Homo sapiens: one gene and its partner. The protein of the gene in region 1 purifies or fractionates together with the protein of each later gene. This does not show direct contact. Each region holds a gene or a part of one and is shown in the gene's direction. Other genes may lie near its edges.

Region 1 (12,305 bases):
GCACCAAACCCAGCATCACAGGGTTGGGCAAGGCTTTCTAAAGAAGGTGATATCTAGTTTGTTTCTTAAGTAAAAGTTAGGTAGGTGGAAGAAGGAGGGGGAGGGGTGGGGACCAGAGGATGTTCCAGACAGAGGACTGTATGTCCTAAGGCAAGAGAACGTGAATATAGGTAACTATACACATTTTAGCCTGCCCAGAAGGAAGGGTATGGATTAAAAAGAAATGAGGCTGGAGGGTTAAGTAATGGCCATGTAGCAGAGGGTGTTGGAGGCCATGTCAGATGATAAATTTGGAGTTGAAAGTTTTTCATGAACTTGAGTTTTTTGTTTTCATTTTCTGCTCCTTGTGGAGCAGGGCTAAGTCCTAAGCAGTGTGCCCAGAGTCAGCCTAGTATATTTATAGATGGAAGAACATATCTGAAGAAACAGGTAGGTATTTATTAAAATCGCAAAGTCAGAAAATACTGAAAGTATAACAGTCTAAAAATTGTTCGAGTTATTTTTAACAGGTGAATTTAAAGGCCAGTTTCTTCTTGCAGACAAAAGCTTTGAATTATGCTAGACAAAGTTAAACATTATAGATGTTTAATGGAACATTATTTTCACCAGTGGATATTAAAAGGAGAAGCATCATTTCTTTTTTCATTTTTTTTTTTAAATTATACTTTAAGTCCTGGGATATATATGCAGAATGTGCAGGTTTGTTATGTAGGTATACACGTCATGGTGGTTTGCTGCACCCATCAACCCATCATCTACATTAGGCATTTCTCCTAATGCTATCCCTCCCCTAGGCCCCCATCCCCCAACAGGCCCCAGTGTGTGATGTTCCCCTCCCTGTGTCCATATGTTCTCATTGTTCAACTCCCACTTATGAGTGAGAACATGCGGTGTTTGGTTTTCTGTTCCTGTGTTAGTTTGCTGAGAGTGATGGTTTCCAGCTTCATCCATGTCCCTGCAGAGGACATGAACGTGTCCTTTTTTATGGCTGCATAGTATTCCATGGTGTATATGTGCCACATTTTCTTTATCCAGTCTGTCATTGATGGGCATTTAAGTTGGTTCCAAGTCTTTGCTATTGTGAACAGTGCTACAATAAACCTACGTGTGCATGTGTCTTTATAGTAGAATGATTTATTATCCTTTGGGTATGTACCCAGTAATGGGATTGCTGGGTCAAATGGTATTTCTGGTTCTAGATCCTTGAGGAATCGCCACACTGTCTTCCACAATGGTTGAACTAATTTACACTCCCAACAACAACATAAAAGCGTTCCTATTTCTCCACATCCTCTCCAGAATCTGTTGTTTCCTGACTTTTTAATGATTGCCATTCTAACTGGCGTGAGATAGTTTCTCATTGTGGTTTTAATTTGCATTTCTATAATGACCAGTGATGATGAGCTTTTTTTCATGTTTGTTGGCTGCATAAATGTCTTCATTTGAGAAATATCTGTTCCTATCTTTTGCCCACTTTTCAATGGGGTTGTTTGTTTTTTTCTTGTAAATTTAAGTTCTTTGTAGATTCTGGATATTAGCCCTTTGTCAGATGGATTGATTGCAAAAATTTTCTCCCATTGTGTGGGTTGCCTGTTGACTCTGATGATAGTTTCTTTTGCTCTGCAGAAGCTCTTTAATTTAATTAGATCCCATTTGTCAATTTTGGCTTTTGTTGACATTGCTTTTGATGTTTTAGTCAAGAAGTCTTTGCCCATGCCTATATCCTGAATGGTATTGCTTAGGTTTTCTTCTAGAGTTTTTATGGTTTTAGGTCTTACGTTGAAGTCTTTAATCCATCTTGAGTTAATTTTTGTATAAGGTGTAAAGAAGGGGTCCAATTTCAGTTTTCTGCATATGGCTAGCCAGTTTTCCCAATGCCATTTATTAAATACGGAATCCTTTCCCCATTGCTTGTTTTTGTTAGGATTGTCAAAGATCAGATGGCTGTAGATGTGTGGTGTTATTTCTGAGGCCTCTGTTTTGTTCCATTGGTCTATATATCTGTTTTGGTACCAGTACCATGCTGTTTTGATTACTGTAGCCATGTAGTATAGTTTGAAGTCAGGTAGTGTGATGCCTCCAGCTTTGTTCTTTCTGCTTAGGATTATCTTGTAAATTACTTTGGGCAGTATGGCCATTTTTATGATATTGATTCTTCCTATCCATGAGCATGGAATGTTTTTCCATTTGTTTGTGTCCCCTCTGATTTCTTTGAGCAGTGGTTTGTAGTTCTCCTTGAAGAGGTCCTTCACATCCCTTGTAAGTTGGATTCCTAGGTATTTTATTCTCTTTGTAGCAATTGTGAATGGGAGTTCCCTCACAATTTGGCTCTCTGTTTGTCTATTATTGGTATATAGGAATGCTTGTGATTTTTGCACATTGATTTTGTATCCTGAGACTTTGCTGAAGTTGCTTATCAGCTTAAGGAGATTTTGGGCTGAGATGATGGGGTTTTCTAAATAGACAGTGATGTTAATCTGCAAACAGAGACAATTTGACTTCCTCTCTTCCTATTGGAATACGCTTTATTTCTTTCTCTTGCCTGATTGCCCTGGCCAGAACTTCCAATACTGTGTTGAATAGGATTGGTGAGAGAGGGCATCCTTGTCTTGTGCCGGTTTTCAAAGGGAATGCTTCCAGCTTTTGCCCATTCAGTATGATATTGGCTGAGGGTTTGTCATAAATAGCTCTTATTATTTTGAGATATGTTCCATCAATACCTAGTTTATTGAGAGTTTTTAGCATGAAGGGGTGTTGAATTTTATCAAAGGCCTTTTCTGCATCTATTGAGATAATCATGTGGTTTTTGTCATTGGTTCTGTTTATGTAATGGATTACGTTGAACCAGCCTTGCATCCCAGGGATGAAGCCAACTTGATTGTGGTGAATAAGCTTTTTGATGTGCTGCTGGATTTGTTTTGCCAGTTTTTTATTGACGATTTTCGCATTGATGTTCATCAGGGATATTGGCCTGAAATTTTCTTTTTTTGTTGTGTCTCTGCCAGGTTTTGGTATCAGGATGATGCTGGCCTCATAAAATGAGTTAGAGAGGAGTCCCTCTTTTTCTATTGTTTGGAATAGTTTCAGAAGGAGTGGTATCAGCTCCTCTCTGTACCTCTGGTAGAATTTGGCTGTGAATCTGTCTGGTCCTGGGCTTCTCTTTTGGTTGGTAGGCTATTGCTGCCTCTATTTCAGAACATGTTATTGGTCTATTCAGGGATTCCACTTCCTCCTGATTTAGCCTTGGGAGGGTGTATGTGTCCAGGAATTTATCCATTTCTTCTAGATTTTCTAGTTTATTTTCATAGAGGTGTTTATAGTATTCTCTGATGGTAATTTGTATTTCTGTGGGATCGGTGGTGATATCCCCTTTATCAATTTTTATTGTGTCTATTTGATTCTTCTCTCTTTTCTTCTTTATTAGTCTGGCTAGCAGTCTATCTATTTTGTTAATCTTTTCAAAAAACTAGCTCCTGGATTCATTGGTTTTTTTGAAGGGTTTTCGTGTCTCTATCTCCTTCAGTTCTGCTGTGTTTTAGTTATGTCTTGTCTTCTAGGTTTTGAATTTGTTTGCTCTTGTTTCTCTACTTCTTTTAATTGTGATGTTAGGGTGTCGATTTTAGATCTTTCCTGCTTTCTCCTGTGGGAATTTAGTGCTATAAATTTCCCCTTAAACACTGCTTTAGCTGTGTCCCAGAGATTCTGGTATGTTGTGTCTTTTTTCTCATTGGTTTCGAAGAACTTATTTATTTCTACCTTATTTTTGTTATTTACCCCGTAGGCATTCAGGAGCAGGTTGTTCAGTTTCCAAGTAGTTGTGCATTTTTGAGTGGATTTCTTAAACCTGAGTTCTAATTTGATTGCAGTGTGGTCTGAGAGACTGTTTGTTATGATTGCCATTCTTTTGCATTTGCTGAGGAGTGTTTTACTTCCAATTATGTGGTCAATTTTAGGATAAGTGCAATGTGGTGCTGAGAAGAATGTATATTCTGTTGATTTGGGGTGGAGAGTTACGTCACTGTCTATTAGGTCTGCTTGGTCCAGGGCTGAGTTCAAGTCCTGAAGATCCTTGTGAATTTTCTGTCTCGTTGATCTGTCTAATATTGACAGTGGGGTGTTAAAGTCTCCCATTATTATTGTGTGGGAGTCTAAGTCTCTTTGTAGGTCTCTTAGAACTTGCTTTATGAATCTGGGTGCTCCTGTATTAGGTGCATATATATTTAGGGTAGTTAGCTCTTCTTGTTGCATTGTTCCCTTTACTATTATGTAATGCCCTTCTTTGTGTTTTTTGATCTTTGTTGGTTTAGAGTCTGTTTTATCAGAGACTAGGATTGCAACACTTGCTGTTTTTGCTTTCCATTTGCTTGGTAAATATCCTCCATTCCTTTATTTTGAGTCTGTGTGCGTCTTTGCACATGAGATAGGTCTCCTGAATACAGCACACTGATGGGTCTTGACTCTTTATCCAATTTGCCAATCTGTGTCTTTTAATTGGGGCTTTTATCCCATTTACATTTAAGGTTAATATTGTAATGTGTTATTTGATTCTGTCATTATGATGCTAGCTGGTTATTTTGCCCATTAGTTTATGCAGTTTCTTCTTAGTATCGATGGTCTTTACTGTTTGGTACGTTTTGCAGTGGCTGGTACCAGTTTTTCCTTTCCATATTTAGTGCTTCCTTCAGGAGCTCTTGTAAGGCAGGCCTGGTGGTGACAAAATCTCTCAGCATTTGCTTATCTGGAAAGGATTTTATTTCTCCTTCACTTACAAAACTTAATTTGGCTGGATATGAGATTCTAAGTTGAAAATTCTTTACTTTAAGGATGTTGAGTATTGGCCCCCACTTTCTTCTGACTTGTACGGTTTCTGCTGAGAGATCCACTGTTAGTCTGATGGGCTTCTCTTTGTGGGTAACCCGACCTTTCTCTCTGGCTGCCCTTAACATTTTTTTCTTCATTTCAACCTTCGTGAATCTGACGATTATGTGTCTTGGGGTTGCTCTTCTCGAGGAGTATCTTTGTGGTTCCTGAATTTGAATGTTGGCCTCTCTTGCTAGGTTGGGTAAGTTCTCCTGGATAATATCCTGAAGAGTGTTTTTCAACTTGGTTCCATTCTCCCTATCACTTTCAGGTACACCAATCAAACATAGAGATTTGGTCTTTTCACATAGTCCCATATTTGTTGGAGGCTTTGTTCGTTCCTTTTCATTCTTTTTTCTCTAATCTTGTCTTCACGCTTTATTTCATTAAGTTGATCTTCAATCGCTGATGTCCTTTCTTCCACTTGATCAATTCGGCTATTGATACTTGTGTATGCTTCACAAAGTTCCCTTGCTGTGTTTTTCAGCTCCATCAGGTCATTTATGTTCTTCTCTAAACTGGTAATTCTAGTTAGCAATTCCTCTAACCTTTTTTCAAGGTTTTTAGCTTCCTTGCGTTGGGTTAGAACATGCTCCTTTAGCTCCAAGGAGTTTGTTACTACCCACCTTCTGAAGCATACTTCTGTCAATTCATCAAACGCATTCTCCGTCCAGTTTTGTTCCCTTGCCGGCGAGGAGTTGTGATCCTTTGAAGAGAAGAGGCATTCTGGTTTTTGGAAATTTCAGCCTTTTTGTGCTGGTTTTTCCTCATCTTCTTGGATTTATCTACCTTTGGTCATTGTTGTTGGTGACCTTTGGATGGGGTTTCTGTGTGGACGTCCTATTTGTTGATGTTGATGCTATTCCTTTCTGTTAGGTTTATTTCTAACAGTCAGACCCCTCTGCTGTAGGTCTGCTGGAGTTTGCTGGAGGTCCAGTCCAGTCCCTGTTTGCCTGGGTATCACCAGCAGAGGCTGCAGAACAGCAAAGATTGCTGCTTGTTCCTTCCTCTGGAAGCTTTGTCCCAGAGGGGTACCCGCCAGATGCCAACCAGAGCTCTCCTCTATGAGGTGTCTATTGACCCCTGATGGGAGGTGTCTCCTAGGCAGGAGGCACAGGGGTCAGGGACCCACTTGAGGAGGCAGTCTGTCCCTTAGCAGAGCTTGAGCACTGTGCCGGGAGATCCGCTGCTCTCTTCAGAGCCGGCAGGCAGGAACGTTTGAGTCTGCTGAAGCTGTGCCCACAGCCGCCCCTTCCCCCAGGTGCTCTGTCCCAGGAAGATGGGAGTTTTATTTATAAGGTCCTGACTGGGGCTGAGGCAGCATTTTGTTTCCTTTTTTTGTCTTGGAGTGTTCATTCTTTATTCTTCACTAGACTGAACTTAGTTCTTAATCGTTCTTTTATCCTCAATATATTAATAGACTCTTGCTATCATAGGTCCTTATATTGTGAGTTAAGTGAATGAATTGTTGCTATCTTGGGAATTACTGCTTAATTTTTGTTTTCCTTCTAGGACCTCGACTGGATTTTGATCCTGACATTGTTGCAGCTCTTGATGATGATTTTGACTTTGATGATCCAGATAATCTGCTTGAGGATGACTTTATTCTTCAGGCCAATAAGGCAACAGGAGAGGAAGAGGGAATGGATATACAGTATGTGTGGTTTGTTTCAAAGCAGAGATGATGACCTAAGTGTTACTGCTTCAGTGGGATGGTAACCATAGAACGTTACAGTTGGAAGAGACCTTCAAGAGCATTTAATCTGAGACTTCTGTATTTTAGAGCAGAAAATGTGAGATTCATTGCTTTTCCTACCAAACCAGATTGATCAAACACCCTCACTCTTCCTGCCTAGACAAGAACCCTTCCTGAAATACCTTCCAATTTTACTTGTGTAAAGTGGTTTTGTTCTGTTACTTTTTAAGTTGTTTTGGTAGGTAATTTATGACCTTTACTTTAGGAAATCTGAGAATGAAGATGACAGCGAGTGGGAAGATGTGGATGATGAGAAGGGAGATAGCAATGATGACTATGACTCTGCAGGCCTATTGTCAGATGAAGACTGTATGTCTGTGCCCGGAAAAACTCACAGAGCTATAGCAGATCACTTGTTCTGGAGTGAGGAAACAAAGAGTCGCTTCACGGAGTATTCGATGACTTCCTCAGTCATGAGGAGAAATGAACAGCTGACCCTACATGATGAGAGGTTTGAGAAGGTAAGGTCCCCACATAAGGGATGCTTTAGTACTATCTTATGTTAAATTTTTTTTTTTAATACCTGTCAGCTTTAGCCCAGGTTGAAGTGCTCACCAACCACAAAGTCAATCATAGGAAGTTTACAACTATCCAGCTATAGGTTCGTGTAGCCAGCATAAAGCAGAAGGGTATCAGTGCAGTACAGGAGCACAAAGACTGCAAAGGGAGCATAGAACTGTGCAGAAGAAGAGTAATTGGTTAGGAGGATGTGACTTTTCCAATTTACATCACACGCTTACACCAGGAGGTGGCTCAAATGATGCCTCATTCAACCTGAATGGGTAACCAAAAGTAGCTGTAATAGTTTTATTCTCACTAACTGTGGTAGGACAACTCACTTGAGTTTCTATTTGGCCCTTAAAACCCCCAGAAGTGGCCCTTAAACCCTCACCATCTCTAATGTTGTGCTTCTTTATTATGTATGTCATATATGGATTTGTCTCAGATTAGAATGTGAATCCCCCAAGGGCAGAGAGTTTTTTATATTTTGCTCACGATACATCTGAAAGCCTAAAATGGTGTCTTGGCATGTAGTAGAAGTTTAAAGTGTTCCATAAATGATAAATGAATGAAGGAATAGTTTCCTTCAAGGTGACTCTAAAGATAGAAGCAGTCCACTCAAGGACCTTGACGAAGCCGAGCGGGTTGAGGTTGATCTGGAAACTGGAACATCCTCTGGCCAAGTCAGCTGATCCGCCCGCGAGCTAAGTAGATGTTAGGCGCCTTGCTGTGTGCCTTGTTTTTTTTTGTTATTTTTCTTTTTTTATTTTTTAAAAAGAGAGATTGGGACCCAAAGCTAAAACTTTTGAGTGTTGAAAACAGCGTATCTCTTTATTAAAACAGAGCATAAAAGCACCTTAGTTATTGTCGTTTTCCCTTTACATATTCTATGAGGCCAGTCACCCTAGTTTTGATTCTGGAAAGAACGTGTGTAGGTCAAAAGGAGTTGGCTGATCAAACGTTCTTATTTTCCCCCTTGAATTCTGACATCCTGATTCTGAATTTCTCCAACAGTAATCCATAAGATGCTATATTTCTGAAGTATTGGCCTGATTGAGCACATCAAAATTCCATTTCTTTCCGTTTCTCATCTGGTGTTTTCAGACATAACTAACACTGAGGAATAGAATGGAAGTAGAGTATAAGACACTTTTGAAAGCTTGTATTTTCATATACTCTATTTGGTTCTGTTGTAACAGATTAGCTCCAGGGTTTATAATCCCAACCTATAGACTGTTTATACAGGTTTTTAATCCCACCTATCCTGTTGTTTGTTCTGTAGCACATAACACCTCCTAACATCATCTCTAATGTTGTGCTTTATTATGTATGTTATATATAGATTTGTCTCAGATTAGAATGTGAATTCCCCAAGGGCAGAGAGTTCTTTGTATTTTGCTCACGGATACATCCAAAAGCCTAAAATGGTGTCTTGGCATGTAATAGAAGTTTAAAGTGTTCCATAAATGATAAATGAATGAAGGAATAGTTGCCATCCAGGTGAATCTAAAATAAAGGCTGTTACCTTGCTACCTTCTCACCTAATACTATTTTCCCTCTTCTCTTGAGGGAGAAACAAACTGTTGCTACAAATCTCACTCTTCAGGAGATATATCCCCCCCATTTACTCTTTGTCAAAGCTTAACAGTGTCAACACCATTTGCATAATATAGTAATTATTGTCTAAACAAGAACAAATATATACATTAGTAGGTGAATTTTCAGTTGCACAATCTTTTAGTTTGCATAACTAAGGAATATGAAAATATCTTTAGTCTAGGCGTAGTGTCTCGTGCCTATAATCTCAGAACTGTGGGAGGCCGAAGCAGATGGATCACTTGAGCCTAGGAGTTTGAGACTGTCTTGGGCAGTGCAGACCCTGTTTCTATTTAAAAAAATAAATAAAATGGCCTGGTATGGTGGCATGTGCCTGTGGTCCCAGCTGCTTGAGAGGCTGAGGTGGGAAGATTGCTTGAGCCTGAGAGTTTGAGGCTGCAGTGAACTATGATCACGCCACTGTACTCCAGGCTGGGAGACAGTGAGATACTTAAAAAAAAGAAAAAGTATCTTCAAAAATGTTCTGACGTAATCTGTGCTGCCTAGCATTTTGTTCTCCAAGCTGAGTGGAATAATGCCTTTCATTTACATGTTAAATGGAAGCCTATTTTTAGGCTAAATGTAAGTCTTAAAGTACTGAGCAGAAATATCTTCCACATCCTATTGTTGCATTAAATCCCTACTGATATTTTAATGGTAATTGTGATAGTACCTGAATAACTATTGTGTAAGAATAAAGTTAATGTAAAAAAATTTTTAAGTGTGTAGTCTTACTGAGTACATTTGCTTTTCATGGTATCTTTTCTCTGTTTATATTCAAGTTTTATGAGCAATATGATGATGATGAAATTGGAGCTCTGGATAATGCAGAATTGGAAGGTTCTATTCAAGTGGACAGCAATCGCTTACAGGAAGTTTTGAATGACTACTATAAAGAGAAGGCAGAGAAGTATAGTGACTTTTCCTTCCTTGTTTAGCTGTTCTTTTTTTTAAAAAAGAAAAAATTCCAAAGAAAGGTCTATAGTATAACTGAATTGAGGAAAAAATTAACCTAGTCAAAATACATATTGAGAAAATGAAAAAGGAAAAAAGAAAAGGGGAAAAAAAAAGATAGGGCGGAAAAAAGAAAGTGGTACATTTTCCATAAACTTGGGTCATGTATAGCTCATTGTTTTGCCTACATTTTGGTGTTAAATGTTCTGAAGTAGAACGTAATGGGAATATACGAGGAGCCACTTTCTCCGTATCTTTGACTGGAGAAGAGTCATGGTAGAATGTGTATTCGTTTATTAAATTTTTTTTTTTTTTTGAGACGGAGTCTTGCTCTGTTGCCCAGGCTGGAATGCAGTGGTGCGATCTCAGCTCACCTGCAACCTCCGCCTCCCAGGTTCAGGTGATTCTCCTGCCTCAGCCTCCTGAGCAGATGTGATTACAGGTGCACACCACCATGCCCAGCTAATTTTTGTATTTTTAGTAGAGATGGGGTTCCACCATGTTGGCCAGGCTGGTCTCAAACTCTTGACCTCATGTAATATGCCTGCCTCGGTCTCCCAAAGTGCTGGGATTATAGGTCTGAGCCACTGTGCCTGGCCAATTTTTAATTTTTTTTTAACTTTTATTTATTTTGCTTAAAAGTTTTGTTTTGATAGAAGCATGAATATTATTAGGGTGTGAAATATAAGGACAGGCTGGGCGTGGTGGTGTACACCTGTAATCCCAGCTGTTTGGGAGGCTGAGACAGGATCACTTGAACCTGGAAGGCAGAGGTTGCAGTGAGCTGAGATAGCACCACTGCTTCCAGCCTGGGTGACAGGGCGAGACTCTGTCTCAAAAAAAAAAAAAGAAATAAAGGGACACATTCCCCTTGGAAAATAAGATCGTGTTTCTAGTCTTTTGGGCTGAAGAATTATTCCAAGCATACGCTTTTTTCATCTTTCTGAAATGCCAGGTGTTCTGAGAAGTAGGTATTTACATCTCGTGGAAAGACAAGAATTTGTCTCTCCAGCTGGATTAGCGGAACTGACCAGCCAGTTATTTTGGCAAATCAGCATCCACATCAAGGTGACTCTTCTCTGAGAGAAACTGATGAAGTGTTCAAATCAGCTAGAAAGGTCTGATGTTCCATGATCACTATAATATATAGATCCCATAGCAGAAAAAGAAGCTATATAGTTGAGTGAAATATTCGAATACTTTGCAGAGACAGATGAGTTATGCTTTTTTAGGCTTTAAAAACCTGTTTTCTTAGGAAGCTGCCTTGGAAAGACACAGCTAGATGTTACCTTCCTATCAGCCGAGTGAATGTCCAAAACTCACTGGAGGGAAGAGGCAGGGCTGGGTAGAACAGAGTTTGACAGAAAATAACGGATGGGTCACTGGAATATGTGCATTTAAAACATTGGTTTTTCCACAGCTAAAAATTGCAGTTTTAGTGACATAGTATAATAATAGGTCATTTTTCCCCCTCTTGGTCTTCACTTTTAAAAACTCGTCTAAAAGTTGTGTAAAATTGAATACCCTTGAACCCTTGGAGGATCAAGACCTGCCAATGAATGAGCTTGATGAGTCTGAGGAGGAAGAAATGATTACTGTAGTCCTTGAAGAAGCCAAAGAGAAGTGGGATTGTGAATCTATTTGTAGTAAGTATATTCACTTTATGATAGTAATTTTAAAGTATTAAAGTATATCAACTTTAGGCTGGGTGCGGTGCCTCACGCCTGTAGTAATCCCAGCACTTTGGGAGGCCGAGGCGGGTGGGTCACCTGATGTCAGGAGTTCAAGACCAGCCTGGCCAACATGGTGAAACCCCGTGTCTACTAAAAAATACAAAAATTAGCCAGGTATGGTGGCAGGCAACTGTAATCCCAGCTGCTCGAGAGGCTGAGGCAGGAGAATAGCTTGAACCTGGGAGGCAGAGGTTGCAATGAGCCGAGATCATGCCATTGCACTCCAACCTGGGCAACAAGAGCAAAACTCTGTCTAAAAAAAAACATATATCAACTTTGAAAAAATACATATATTTTAATAAGAGTTAGGCTTTTAGGAAATTTGTGAAAAATTATTTGGAAAGAGTAATATTCCAATACTGAGTTGTAAGCAATTTATAAAACATTGATCAGAGACTCCAGTGTTATTTTGCACTATGAAAACACAAGGTCAGAAATATAGTAGGAATTCAGTAATGCTTTGTGGAACTGAAAACATGCTTACTGATACATGACTTTTATTTGTTTGTTTAGGTACATACTCAAATTTATATAACCATCCACAGCTTATCAAGTATCAACCAAAGGTAAGTCCTAGTGTGCTGAGCTATTTGAAGGATGCAGTGCATAAAAAATAGAGTGCACATTTTCGCACAATAACTTTTTATCTTTATGGCTAGAGTGATATTAGAAAAAGCATCAACAGTATGTCATTAATGAGCTATTTTTTAATAGGAATGAGAAGTAACTCTAGTACCATTTTATCTGTATTTCAGCCCAAACAAATTCGAATATCTTCTAAAACAGGAATACCTCTCAATGTCTTACCAAAGAAAGGACTCACAGCAAAGCAAACTGAAAGAATACAGATGATTAATGGCAGTGATCTTCCTAAAGTATCAACTCAGCCACGTTCTAAAAATGAA
Region 2 (12,305 bases), on another chromosome or scaffold:
GCGGGGCGCAGGTTGGAGTAACAGGGACGGGCTTGAGCTGGTACGGAACCGGGCAAGGTGAGAGAAGTGTCTTCCACGCGATTCCCAAGCCTCGCTAGGGAATCGAGGGAGAAGAAAGGTTGCTCAGAGTGATAAAGAACATGCCGTTGCAAACGGAAGAGCAACGTGCCCGAATCTAGGTGACAGGAAGGGCTTAGGCCTTTTCGGCACGAATGGAGCCTTCCAGTCAACATGCTTCTACGTGATGCAGCTTTATAGCGCAAAAAAATGACAATGCAAGGGGTACAAACAGCCCTGCTAGACCAACAGCCCGAGCCTCGACAGTCTACATCCGGCGCCTTCAAGCCCCCAACCACACACTGCGAAGTGGGAAAAGTTCCCAGCGCGGCTTGGCGAACCCGCTAACACGGCGCTCTCACGAGCTGCTGGAAAAGACCTTCGCGAGAGGGCGCAGGGAGTCCCGCTCCCTGGAGGGCCCGCCCCCTTGGAGGGGACCGGAAGCGCTTGTCCTGGCCCGGAAGCAGTGCTGACTCCGTACACGCGCGCTGCGGCATGGCGGCCCACCGCCCCGGCCCGCTCAAGCAGCAGAATAAAGCTCATAAAGGCGGACGGCATCGGGGTCGGGGATCTGCACAGCGGGACGGCAAGGGTAAGGAGATAACGTAGAAGGAATAAGGGCTATTTGGCCGTTATTAACTCTTTTTCCTCATGCCCAGACTGAGCTTCTGTCTCCCGTCTGGGCTCCACGCGAAAGGCCCTTTCTAAGGTGGGCGGAGAGGAGTCCCTTTTCTTGACCTTGTGGGGCCGATCACACCAGCCCCTTCTAATCTGCCATTCAGGCCGTCTGGCACTGAAAACCCTAAGCAAGAAGGTGAGAAAAGAACTCAGCAGAGTCGACCAGAGGCATCGCGCCAGCCAGCTCCGAAAGCAGAAGAAGGAGGCGGTGAGAGGAGCGGGATTTGGGAGAATGCGGCTTCTCTGGTGTTCTAGGTGGCTAATGCCTCGAAGTGGAAAATGAGACCGGGAGGAGGGTCCAGGGACAGAGCATAGCCCTAGAGCACGTGTCGAGCGTGCAGGTCTAGCATTCTTTGCTTTGGTCAGAATTCCTGCCACCCCGCTGGCATACCTGTGGTCTTTTACTAGAGAGATGCTGGTTTTGGGTAGGGGGAGCATCTGTGGGAGTGGAAATGCAATGCTGGAGTGAAGTACTGAGACACTGAGATGTTCTCGGATATCTTTCTATTTTCAGGTTCTGGCAGAGAAGAGACAGCTGGGTGGCAAGGATGGCCCTCCTCATCAGGTACTGGTGGTGCCCCTGCACAGCAGAATTTCCCTGCCAGAGGCCATGCAGCTGCTTCAAGATAGGGACACTGGAACAGTACACTTGAATGAATTGGGAAACACCCAGAACTTTATGCTGCTGTGCCCCCGCTTGAAACATCGGTGGTTTTTCACCTCAGCAAGGCCAGGTTAGAGTATACACCAATATTTTGTATTATGTTTGAGTAGTGGTATTTTTTTTTTTTTTTTTTAGAATAATGTGCTGGTGCCAACCACCTCTTCTTACTGTGTCTTCTATCTGCAGGGGATCTGCACGTTGTGTTAGACATGGCTAAAGTAGCTGATACCATCCTGTTCCTCCTTGATCCACTAGAAGGCTGGGACAGCACCGGTGATTACTGTCTTTCCTGCCTCTTTGCTCAGGGCCTTCCGACCTATAGTAAGTGAGTTAGCATTTATTGTGCACCTTTAATTTGTCAGGCACTATGCCTGGTATTTGATACAGGAATACAACTGATGGATCATATTCAGCTGGTGGTGGGATGTACACATATGGATTAAACTTGATCCATTGTTTACAGATTATCACTCAGGGTGTCTTTTTGTTTTTGGCTGTCCTTTGCCCAGAGAAACAAGGATATGAAGTTTGATTTCACTGTGAAATTCCTTCAGGGTAGTTCAGTGTTGGGCTTCCCAGTGATCTCTGGGCTTGCAACTGAGCTATTAGGTTGTTTGTGAACTGCAGAGGGATTTTTATGTAATGAAGCAGTAGGTCATGAAGCGTTTTCTCTTTCGCTTACAGCACTAGCTGTCCAGGGGATTTCTGGCCTCCCACTGAAGAAACAAATAGATACCAGGAAGAAGCTAAGTAAAGCAGTGGAGAAGCGCTTTCCGCATGACAAACTCCTCTTGTTAGACACTCAACAGGAGGCAGGGATGCTGCTTAGGCAGTTGGCTAACCAGAAGCAACAGCATCTTGCTTTTCGAGATCGGCGGGCCTACCTATTTGCCCATGCTGTTGATTTTGTTCCTAGTGAAGAGAATAACTTGGTGGGCACCTTGAAAATTTCAGGCTATGTTCGAGGGCAGACTCTGAATGTCAATAGGTTGCTGCATATCGTTGGATATGGTGATTTCCAGATGAAACAGATAGATGCCCCCGGAGACCCTTTCCCTTTAAATCCTAGAGGAATTAAACCCCAAAAGGACCCAGACATGGCAATGGAGGTAAGACTGATATTCTTAATTCATGTTCATATGAAAGTTGGCACAGGAAGGAAACTTAAATTCAGAGAAGATAGTCTGTACACTTAGGTGAATGAGGAGACTGCTAGTCTGAAGTAAGGCAATAGTCAGTTATAAATAGGTTGATAAATCACATATTTATCCAGCACTTTCTAGGTAGTCTGCACTGTGATTGGCTCTGAGTTTATAGAACACACTCAAGATGTGGTTGCTTTCCTCAAGGGACTTAATTGGGCTGGAACAAAATGGCATGTGTGAAATAAAGATTGAGATAGCATATGGTTAGAGTGCGGACCAGCAGTGGAAGTTGAGAAAGTAGACTAGCAAGCTTCACATAAGAGATCAGACTTGAGCTAGGTGTTGAGAAGGATAAATGTGATTTATGAGTTGAAGAGGGATAAAAGAATATCCTAGAAGATAAGAGACAGAATGAACCTAGGCACAGTGGTGGATCAAAGGGTTTATGTGAACCTTGAAGAAATCAGCTTGATGGGAGTGAGGTACGTAATAAATGGATAGGAGTGGGAGCAGATTAAGAAAGACCTCAAGAGCCAAGCAGAGACTTAAAATACCCTGGAAATTAGAAAACAGCCATTGGAAAAGTTTTGACAAGTTTTAGCATTCTGTCGCACTCATCTTATACATGAGGACTGATATTTCTGGGTCTTTCTGGTTACTGTGTTAGATTTAGGAGATTTTTGGTTCATGGTTGACTATCACCTGCTTTTGGTTTTCAGATTTGTGCTACGGATGCTGTAGATGATATGGAAGAAGGTCTTAAAGTCCTAATGAAGGCAGACCCTGGTAGACAGGAATCCTTGCAAGCAGAGGTTATCCCAGATCCAATGGAGGGAGAGCAAACCTGGCCCACTGAGGAGGAGCTGAGCGAGGCAAAGGGTCAGTATTGGTAAACTTGTCTGTAATTCATCTGACCTGGAATTGTGGATTTTCTGTAGCTGTTCCAAGTGAGGGCCCTATAGGATAGAGTGGGGTGGGGGTATAGTTGAAAGTCTCTCCTCACCCTCAAATGCTGTATGTTTTCAATAAACAAACATTATACACAGTCTTGTTCCATTTCTCAAAATTACTTGTGTTAATGTTTTATCATGAACAGATAAACAACTTTGGATTCATTGCAGGGCTTATTTAGCTGTGTAAGTATTGCTAGTTGTGAGGCAGCTGAATTAAATTTGGAAGTAGTTCTATTTACAGTGTCTGCCAGAATTTCCCATGTTGGCAGCAGTATCTGGTGCCTTGCCTAGGTGAGAATAACCAGAGGGATAGGGAAAAGAAGTCTGTAATTTACTTAATTTGTTTGGGCTTTTACAGATTTCTTGAAGGAAAGTTCTAAGGTGGTAAAGAAGGTCCCCAAAGGAACATCCAGTTACCAAGCTGAATGGATTTTGGATGGTGGCAGCCAAAGTGGTGGGGAAGGAGATGAATATGAATATGATGATATGGAACATGAGGATTTTATGGAGGAGGAATCTCAGGTAAGGAAATGAGGCCTTAGGCCAATTCTGTGTCTAGCTCCAAATGTAAGGCAAAGTGCAGGTGTGATCTTGATGGGTGTGTGTGGTTAGTTTCTTTTTTTTATTTTTTTTATTTTTTTTTTATGAGACGGAGTCTTGCTCTGTTGCTCAGGCTGGAGTGCAGTGGTGCGATCTGGGCTCACTGCAAGCTCTCCCTCCTGGGTTCACGCCATTCTCCTGCCTCAGCCTCCTGAGTAGCTGGGACTACAGGCGCCCACCACCATGCCTGGCTAATTTTTTTGTATTTTTAGTAGAGACGGGGTTTCACTGTGTTAGCCAGGATGGTCTCAATCTCCTGACCTCATGATCCGCCTGCCTTGGCCTCCCAAAGTGCTGGGATTACAGGCGTGAGCCACCGCACCCGGCCGTGTATGGTTAGTTTCTTAGGAATGACTCTGTAGTTGCCAGGAATGAGGCTTTTGTTTTATACTTTAGACTGTATTAGAATTTATGTTGGTTGGGAATAGGGATCTAGTACAATTATTTTACTCTTAGCTTATTGGCCTTTGGGGTAGAGACAGGTGTGGATTTCTTCTGAAAAAACTGTAATCCTATTCTACAGGATGAGAGTAGTGAAGAAGAGGAAGAATATGAAACTATGACTATTGGGGAGTCTGTGCATGATGATCTGTATGATAAGAAAGTAGATGAAGAAGCTGAGGCAAAAATGTTGGAGAAATATAAACAAGAAAGACTGGAAGAGATGTTTCCAGATGAAGTGGACACGCCCCGTGATGTGGCTGCTCGAATTCGGTTAGTCAACAAGTCTATCAACAAATCTAAATTCAGTCAATACGTTTTTAAAAACTTGGCTCAGAGCTGTGTCACTGTGATGCAAAAGAAGAAAAACACATTTTTTCTGCTCCTGAAGAGCTAACATTTAATATGGGAAGGCAGGACATACATACGGGAAATGGTCATATGTAATTAAGTTCTAGACTGTGGTGCAGACTCACGTTACAGGACTTGAATGAAGGGGAAATACTAAGGTTAATTAGCAAATACTTCTTCCCAAAGGAGCCAGTACTCAATTGAAGTATATAATGTTTGGAAATTTTAGGGGGTTTGGGTAGAATAGCAGAAGTAGAAGAGTGAAGAAGTAGATGATTATATCTGTTCTGGAGGTGAGTGACTAAAGCCAGTGAATTAATTTTGGATATTAGGAGGTAAGGCTATGTATTAGGCCATTCTCGCATGGCTATAAAGAAGTACCAGAGACTGCATAATTTATAAAGAAAAGAGATTTAATTGGGTCATGGTCCTGCAGACTGTACAGGAAGCATGGTGTTGGCATCTGCTCAGCTTCTGGGGGTGTCCTCAAGAAACTTACAATCATGGCAGAAGGTGGAGGGGGAGCAAGTCATGTCACACGGCCAGCGCAGTAACGAGAGCAAGGCAGGAGGTGCTACACACTTTAAACAACTAGATCTCATGAGAACTCACTCAACAAGGAGGGTGGTGCTAACCCACTCATGAGAAAACCTCTCCCCTAATGCAGTCACCTCCCACCAGGCTCCACCTCCAACACTGGGGATTGTATTTCAGTATGAGATTGGGGCAGGGAGACACATCTGAACTGTATCAGGCCATTACCAAGCATCTTTTTTGTCAGTGAGAAGCTTGGGTTTGGTTCCGATAGAACTTGTTATAAGCTGTTCGGAGTGTCGTCTTGGTTTAAGCTGTTGGGTTGTTTGGAGAGAGGATGATTGGAGTTCTTTTCAGCTAGCTCCTTAGCCATTTTAGCAGTGACTTGAGTCTATATAGCACCATATAAATCTGACTTAATGTCTTTAAAAATCTTCAATATTCTAGATTTCAGAAATACAGAGGCCTTAAGAGCTTCCGGACATCTCCATGGGATCCTAAGGAAAACCTTCCTCAAGATTATGCTCGAATATTTCAGTTTCAGAACTTTACTAACACTAGGAAAAGCATCTTTAAAGAGGTTGAAGAAAAAGAGGTTGAAGGAGCTGAGGTATCTATCCTCCTTGTTCATCTTGTATGTTGCTTTCATTTGTCAACATGCTCCCTACTTTATTCCTTCTCTTGGCATGAAAATATGCTGCATTTGGGGATTAGGGGAGCCCCTGAGTCATTGATTAGAATGATACTGGGAACAAAGAGGTATCAGCTATGTTAAATGAAAAAGTGTGATCTGGGTAAATGAAGCATCTTGAAGGATGAGGGTTGGCTTTAAAAATTTTATCTGAGAGACTCAACATATTTGGAGAAAGCTTCCTCGCTATTGGGACTTTGAAAGGTAACTCCATGATTGCTTTCTGCTTTCTTGTGGCAGGTTGGCTGGTATGTCACACTTCATGTCTCTGAAGTCCCCGTCTCAGTGGTCGAGTGCTTCAGGCAAGGAACACCCTTGATTGCATTTTCTTTACTACCTCATGAACAGAAGGTAAATTGCTGTCTTGTGGGAAAATGGGGGGTTGTGAAACTTTCCAGCTGCTTCTGACAGTCTAAAATTCTGTTTATGTGTGACTAAAATTTTGCTCATTGGGATGCAAAAAGTCTGCCTTTATGATTAGGAATTGGAGAATAATAGAGAAGTCAATGATGGTTTTATTCATATCGTCTGAACCTGTCTGAAGCATCTCAGTGATGCAATCTCTGTGTGGTTCTGAGACTTCTCCAAGTATGTTTTTCAGACCAGATTTTGAATAAGGGTTGGCAGCCTTAAAAATAAAGGTTTGGCTGGGCGCGGCGGCTCACGCCTGTAATCCCAGCACTTTTTGGGAGGCCAAGGTGGGTGGATCACCTGAGGTCGGGAGTTCGAGACCAGCCTGACCAACATGGAGGAACCCTGTCTCTACCAAAAATACAAAATTAGCCAGGCGTGGTGGCACATGCCTGTAATCCCAGCTACTTGGGAGGCTGAGGCAGAAGAATTGCTTGAACCCAGTAGGCGGAGGTTGTGGTGAGCCAAGATTGCACCATTGCACTCCAGCCTGGGCAACAAGAGCGAAACTCTTATGTCAAAAAAAAAAAAAGTTTATGCCAAAGTGCAGATCTCTTTTCTCTTGGTGGCCAGTAGTTGTGTATGTTGTGGGGTATGTGATAGTTCTTTGATCGGTTTTGGTAAGGGCTCAAGAAGAAGGGGCTTGAATGAGTGTGGTTTTGAGATTGTGGTGAGTGAATGCCTTGAAGGCCACTGATTTTTGTGTGGCAGATGTTGAGCTCTTTTCTGTTAGGTGCAGGAAGGTAGGTTAGCATTGAAGGGTGCATGAAAGCTCTGATCAGCCTGTGTTTGGCTTAAATGCCAGTCATTGGTGGAGGTAAAGGATGAACCCGTGTTTCAGCATCTACACTCCACCATTAATTAGCATTGTCAGTTCTTAGAATGAGTCTGAATCTGCTAGTTTGGTTTGCCTTCTTTCAGTTTAGGCAATTGTATTCCTAGACTATGAAGATTTTTGTTTTTCTTACTTGGTCCCCAGATGTCAGTATTGAATATGGTGGTGAGGCGTGACCCTGGCAACACTGAACCTGTGAAAGCCAAGGAAGAGCTCATATTTCACTGTGGATTCAGGCGCTTCCGAGCCTCACCTTTATTCTCTCAGCACACTGCAGGTTAGCAATGGGGAAGCTGGGTTCTTGTCCATCTTGTCTTTTGGGAAAGTGACTTGTGGTGGAGGGGTGCCAAAATATATGGTTTCAAAATCTTACATCTCTGGGTTAGAGGTATTTTCAGTACTCTGGCTTAAGAGCCAATGATGTTTTTATTCAAAATGTCTGAACCTGTCTGAAGCATCCCAGTGATGCAACTTCTGTGTGATACTGAGGCTTTTTTGCCATGAGTATTTGTTCCATAGCAGGTTTTGAATAGAAGTTGGCAGCTTTATAAAAAGGGTATTAGGGTGGGTGCAGTGGTGCAGTGGTTCACACCTGTAATCCCAACACTTGTGGCATTAGAACGGGGAATTGAAGACCAAAAAAGGTAAGATTTAATCTTGTTTTTGTTTCTGTTTTTTTTTTTTTTTTTTTTTTTTTTTTGAGACGGAGTCTCACTCTGTCGCCCAGGCTGGAGTGCAGTGGCGCGATCTAGGCTCACTGCAAGCTCCGCCTCTCAGGTTTACTTACACCATTTTCCTGCCTCAGCCTCCCAAGTAGCTGGGACTACAGGCGCCCGCCACCATGCCCAGCTAATTTTTTGTATTTTTAGTAGAGACGGGGTTTCACCGTGTTAGCCAGGATGGTCTCTATCTCCTGACCTCGTGAGCCGCCCGCCTCAGCCTCCCAAAGTGCTGGGATTACAGGTGTGAGCCACCGCGCCCCCTCTTGTTTTTTTTGTTTTTTTTTGTTTGTTTGTTTGTTTGTTTTTTTGGAGACGGAGTCTTACTCCGTTGCCCAGGCTGGAGTGCAATAGCGTGATCTCGGCTCACTGCAACCTCCGCCTCCCGGGTTCAAGCAATTCTCCTGCCTCAGCCTCCCGAGTAGAGTAGTTGGGACTACAGGCATGCACGACCATGCCCAGCTAATTTTTGTATTTTTAGTAGAGATGGGGTTTCACCATGTTGGGGTTTAGTAGAGATGGGGTTTCACCAAGACCAGGAGTTCAGGCTGGTTTTGAACTCCTGGTCTCAGGTGATCCGCCCACCTCGGTCTCCCAAAGTGCTGGGATTACAGACATGAGCCAATGTGCCTGGCCTCTTTTTTTTTTTTTTTTTTTTTGAGACCGAGTCTCACTCTGATGCTCAACTGGAGTGCAATGGTGCAATCCAGGCTCACTGCAACCTCTGCCTTCCAGGTTCAATCAGTTTTCCTGCCTCAGCTTCCCGAGTAGCTGAGATTACAGGCACCCGCCACCACGCCTAGCTAATTTTTGTATTTTTAGTAGAGACGGGGTTTCACCATGCTGGCCAGGCTGGTCTCGACCTTAGGCGATCCTCCTGCCTTGGCCTTCCAAAGTGCTGGGATTACAGGCGTGAGCCACTGCGCCTGGCCAGTCATTCTTTTATTGTTTCAAAATGGTTTTGATTTTTTTTTTTAGGATGAACTATTTTCATATTTTATACAGTTGGGAAAATAAGGAATAATGTAAAAGTAAAATTACCTTATATTAGAGAAAATTCATTTTTATTTTATACATTTTCATCCAGATCTCATTTTTTTTCTTTACACAATTTGGATTGTAATTGTAAATATGGTGTTAAACATTGCATTTATCACTTAATTGATTTTGATCAATTTTCCATAAGATTAATTAGTTAATGAGACTTTTAATGCTTTATTGTCATTTGGATATATTCCAGTGTATGTGATGTACTGATACTTATTTGAGCTTCTACGGGTGAGCACTTAGGCTATTTCTAATGTTTTGCTCTAAACTAGATCTGTATGCATAAAACTTTATTTACTTCTTTGCTTATTTTGTAAAGGCAGATCCTTAGAACTGGAACTAAATAAAAGTCTCAGTTGCAGAGACTGAGGCAGGAGGATCGCTTGAGGTCAGGAGTGTGAGACTCCGGTCTCTACAATTTTTTTTTTTTTTTTTTTGATATAGAGTCCAACTCTGTCACCAAGGCTGGAGTGCAGTAACATGATCTCAGCTCATTGCAGCCTCCCCGTCCCAGGTTCAAGTGATTCTGGCGCCTCAGCCTCCCAAGTAGCTCGGACCATAGGTGTCTGCCACCACGCCCAGCTACTTTTTGTATTTTTAGTAGAGATGGGGTTTCACCAAGTTGGCCAGTCTGTTCTCAAACTCTTGACCTCAGGTGATCCACGTGCCTTGGCCTCCCAAAGTGCTGGGATTTATAGGGATGAGCCAACATGCCCGGCCTCTACGAAAAAAAAATTTTTTTTTTTGGGAGATGGAGTTTCACTCTTGTTGCCCAGGCTGGAGTGCAGTGGCAGGATCTTGGCTCACTGCAACCTCTGCCTCCTAGGTTCAAGTGATTCTCCTGCCTCAGCCTCCCAAGCAGCTGGGATTACAGGCGTGTACCACCATGCCTAGCTAATTTTTCTATTATTAGTAGAGATAGAGTTTCACCATCTTGGCCAGGCTGGTCTCAAACTCCCGACCTCAGGTGATCCACCCGCATTGGCCTCCCAAAGTGCTGGGATTACAGGCATGAGCCACTGCGCCCGGCCAAAAATTTTTCTTTTTAATTAGCCAGGTGTGGTGGCATGTGCTTTGCAGTCCCAGCTACTTGGGAGGCTGAGGCAAGAGGGATTGCCTGAGCCAGTGGGCCCAGGAGTTTGAGGCTCCAGTGAGCTGTGTTCACACCACAGCCCTTAAAATATTTTATTTTCCTATAAGTTTAGTATTTTTAAAAGGGGGGTGAGGGCTACATTGAAGGTAGAACACCAAATACAGTCTAGCCTAGATAGCAGAGTGAGACACTGTCTCTCAGAATTTAAAAGGGTGTGATAAAGTGTGGAAACTTTGATGTCTAGTGTGCCAAGGGCAGTGTGGGTGAAGGAATGGAGGCTGGGTATGGCTCATAGTTGGGTAAAGCAGAGGTAGGGGTCCTGAGATACTGAGAGACTACTGGACGGGACTTGCAGCAGAAATGATTGTCTCCTACACAGTAGGAGCAGGAAGATATGTTGCCCACTAACTTGGGGGCTTCTGAACATCGTCCTAGTTCACTCACTCTCAGCAGTGGCAGGAGGAATATGAAGAAAGCAGTATTAATGGTGTTTTGGATAATTTTTATTCTCACCAATTGTGAGAATCACAATCTCTAAGTGAGATTAATTTTTCTTTGCCTTAAAATATTTTATTTTCCTTTAAGTTTAGTATTTTAAAAAGGAGGTGAGGGCTACCTTGAAGGTAGAACATCAAATACAGTCTAGGCTCCAAGATTCTGACTCCAGATAAAAAAGTTACTGATCAGGCACCTGCAATTCCAGCTATTCGGGAGCCTGAGGCAGAAGAATCACTTGAACCTGGGAGGTGGAGGTTGCAGTGAGCAGAGATGGCACCATTGTACTCCAGCCTGGGCAACAAGAGCGAGACACCATCTCAAAATAAATAAATAAATAAAAAGTTACTGATACAGCCTGGCGCGGTGGCTCACGCCTGTAATCCCAGCACTTTGGGAGATTGAGGTGGGTGGATCACAAGGTGAGGAGTTCGAGACCAGCCTGGCCAACATGGTGAAACCCGGTCTCTACTAAAAATACAAAAATTAGCCGGGCGTGGTGGCATGTGCCTGTAATCCCAGCTACTCAGGAGGCTGAGGCAGGAGAACTGCTTGAACCCGGGAGGCAGAGGTTGCAGTCAGCTGAGATCACACCATTGCATTCCAGCCTGGGTGACAGGAACGATACTCAAACTCAAAAAAAAAGAAAAAAAAAAAGTTACTGATAGGACTAGATCGTATCTTTTAGGTGCATTGAGGCAGCGAAAATTTTTGAGAACTGGTGGTTTAGAGAAGTAGAAGCTGCCATAGGTTTAAGAGTTGCACTAATACAGCTTTTCACAGGCCTCTATCACCTCTGGTTTCTCAAAATGGTTTTGCTTTTCATTTTTTAACCCTTATGGCAGCGGACAAACATAAATTGCAGAGATTCCTGACTGCTGACATGGCCCTGGTGGCGACAGTCTATGCGCCAATCACTTTTCCTCCTGCATCTGTGCTGCTTTTCAAGCAAAAAAGCAATGGTAAGTTGAGCCACAGAGATGAACAGACCCTGCAGGTCCTTAATAGATGAACACCGTTTTCTCTTGTTTATTTAAATTTGGGAGCCAAATGGTATGGAGAAGGTAATGATGGTTTTCAAAATACAGTAAGTCTTCATTTAACATTGTTAATAGAACAATGAAAACTCCAACTTTTACGTGAAACAGTGTATAGCCAGTCCTCAAATAACTGCCTTTTGTTCAACATCCTTTCCTTGTAACAACTGATGAGAAAAAGTATGGTTTTGTTATACATCATTTCTCTTGAAGTACAAGTTTTCAAGAACCTATTGACAAGGTTAAGTGTGGGCTTACAGTTTACCAATCTTAGCCTCAGATTGGGCTAGGGCAGGGATGACAAACCAGGCTCTTGCATGGGTCTTTAAATGGACTGGGCAATAAATGAAGACTTTGGCCTGTAAATTCCTAAATAGCTTCTTTGCTTTTGTCCTTTAGGAATGCACAGCCTCATTGCTACAGGCCATCTTATGTCAGTAGATCCAGACAGAATGGTCATCAAGAGAGTTGTTCTGAGTGGTCATCCTTTCAAAATTTTTACTAAGATGGCAGTAGTACGTTACATGTTCTTCAACAGAGGTGGGTATGAAGGA

What was found.
Region 2: the proteins of LTV1 (region 1) and TSR1 purify together in Homo sapiens (co-immunoprecipitation; 5 studies listed by BioGRID and IntAct, with this or other methods). This does not show direct contact.

What each region holds. Positions count from the first base shown.
Region 1 is NC_000006.12:143,850,931-143,863,235, forward strand, and holds part of LTV1 (protein LTV1 homolog), read left to right. Parts: intron 1-6,372; coding exon 6,373-6,514; exon of another isoform or gene 6,515-6,651; coding exon of another isoform or gene 6,652-6,653; intron 6,654-6,821; coding exon 6,822-7,077; intron 7,078-9,495; coding exon 9,496-9,623; intron 9,624-11,173; coding exon 11,174-11,313; intron 11,314-11,913; coding exon 11,914-11,966; intron 11,967-12,155; coding exon 12,156-12,305. UniProt on the Homo sapiens protein: Essential for ribosome biogenesis.
Region 2 is NC_000017.11:2,324,675-2,336,979, reverse strand, and holds the start of TSR1 (pre-rRNA-processing protein TSR1 homolog), read left to right. Parts: upstream 1-522; 5' UTR 523-552; coding exon 553-649; intron 650-839; coding exon 840-943; intron 944-1,249; coding exon 1,250-1,469; intron 1,470-1,585; coding exon 1,586-1,720; intron 1,721-2,083; coding exon 2,084-2,508; intron 2,509-3,263; coding exon 3,264-3,423; intron 3,424-3,855; coding exon 3,856-4,019; intron 4,020-4,620; coding exon 4,621-4,811; intron 4,812-5,870; coding exon 5,871-6,033; intron 6,034-6,354; coding exon 6,355-6,465; intron 6,466-6,609; exon of another isoform or gene 6,610-6,701; intron 6,702-7,504; coding exon 7,505-7,637; intron 7,638-7,769; exon of another isoform or gene 7,770-7,855; intron 7,856-11,559; coding exon 11,560-11,676; intron 11,677-11,715; exon of another isoform or gene 11,716-12,150; coding exon 12,151-12,291; exon of another isoform or gene 12,292-12,305. UniProt on the Homo sapiens protein: Required during maturation of the 40S ribosomal subunit in the nucleolus.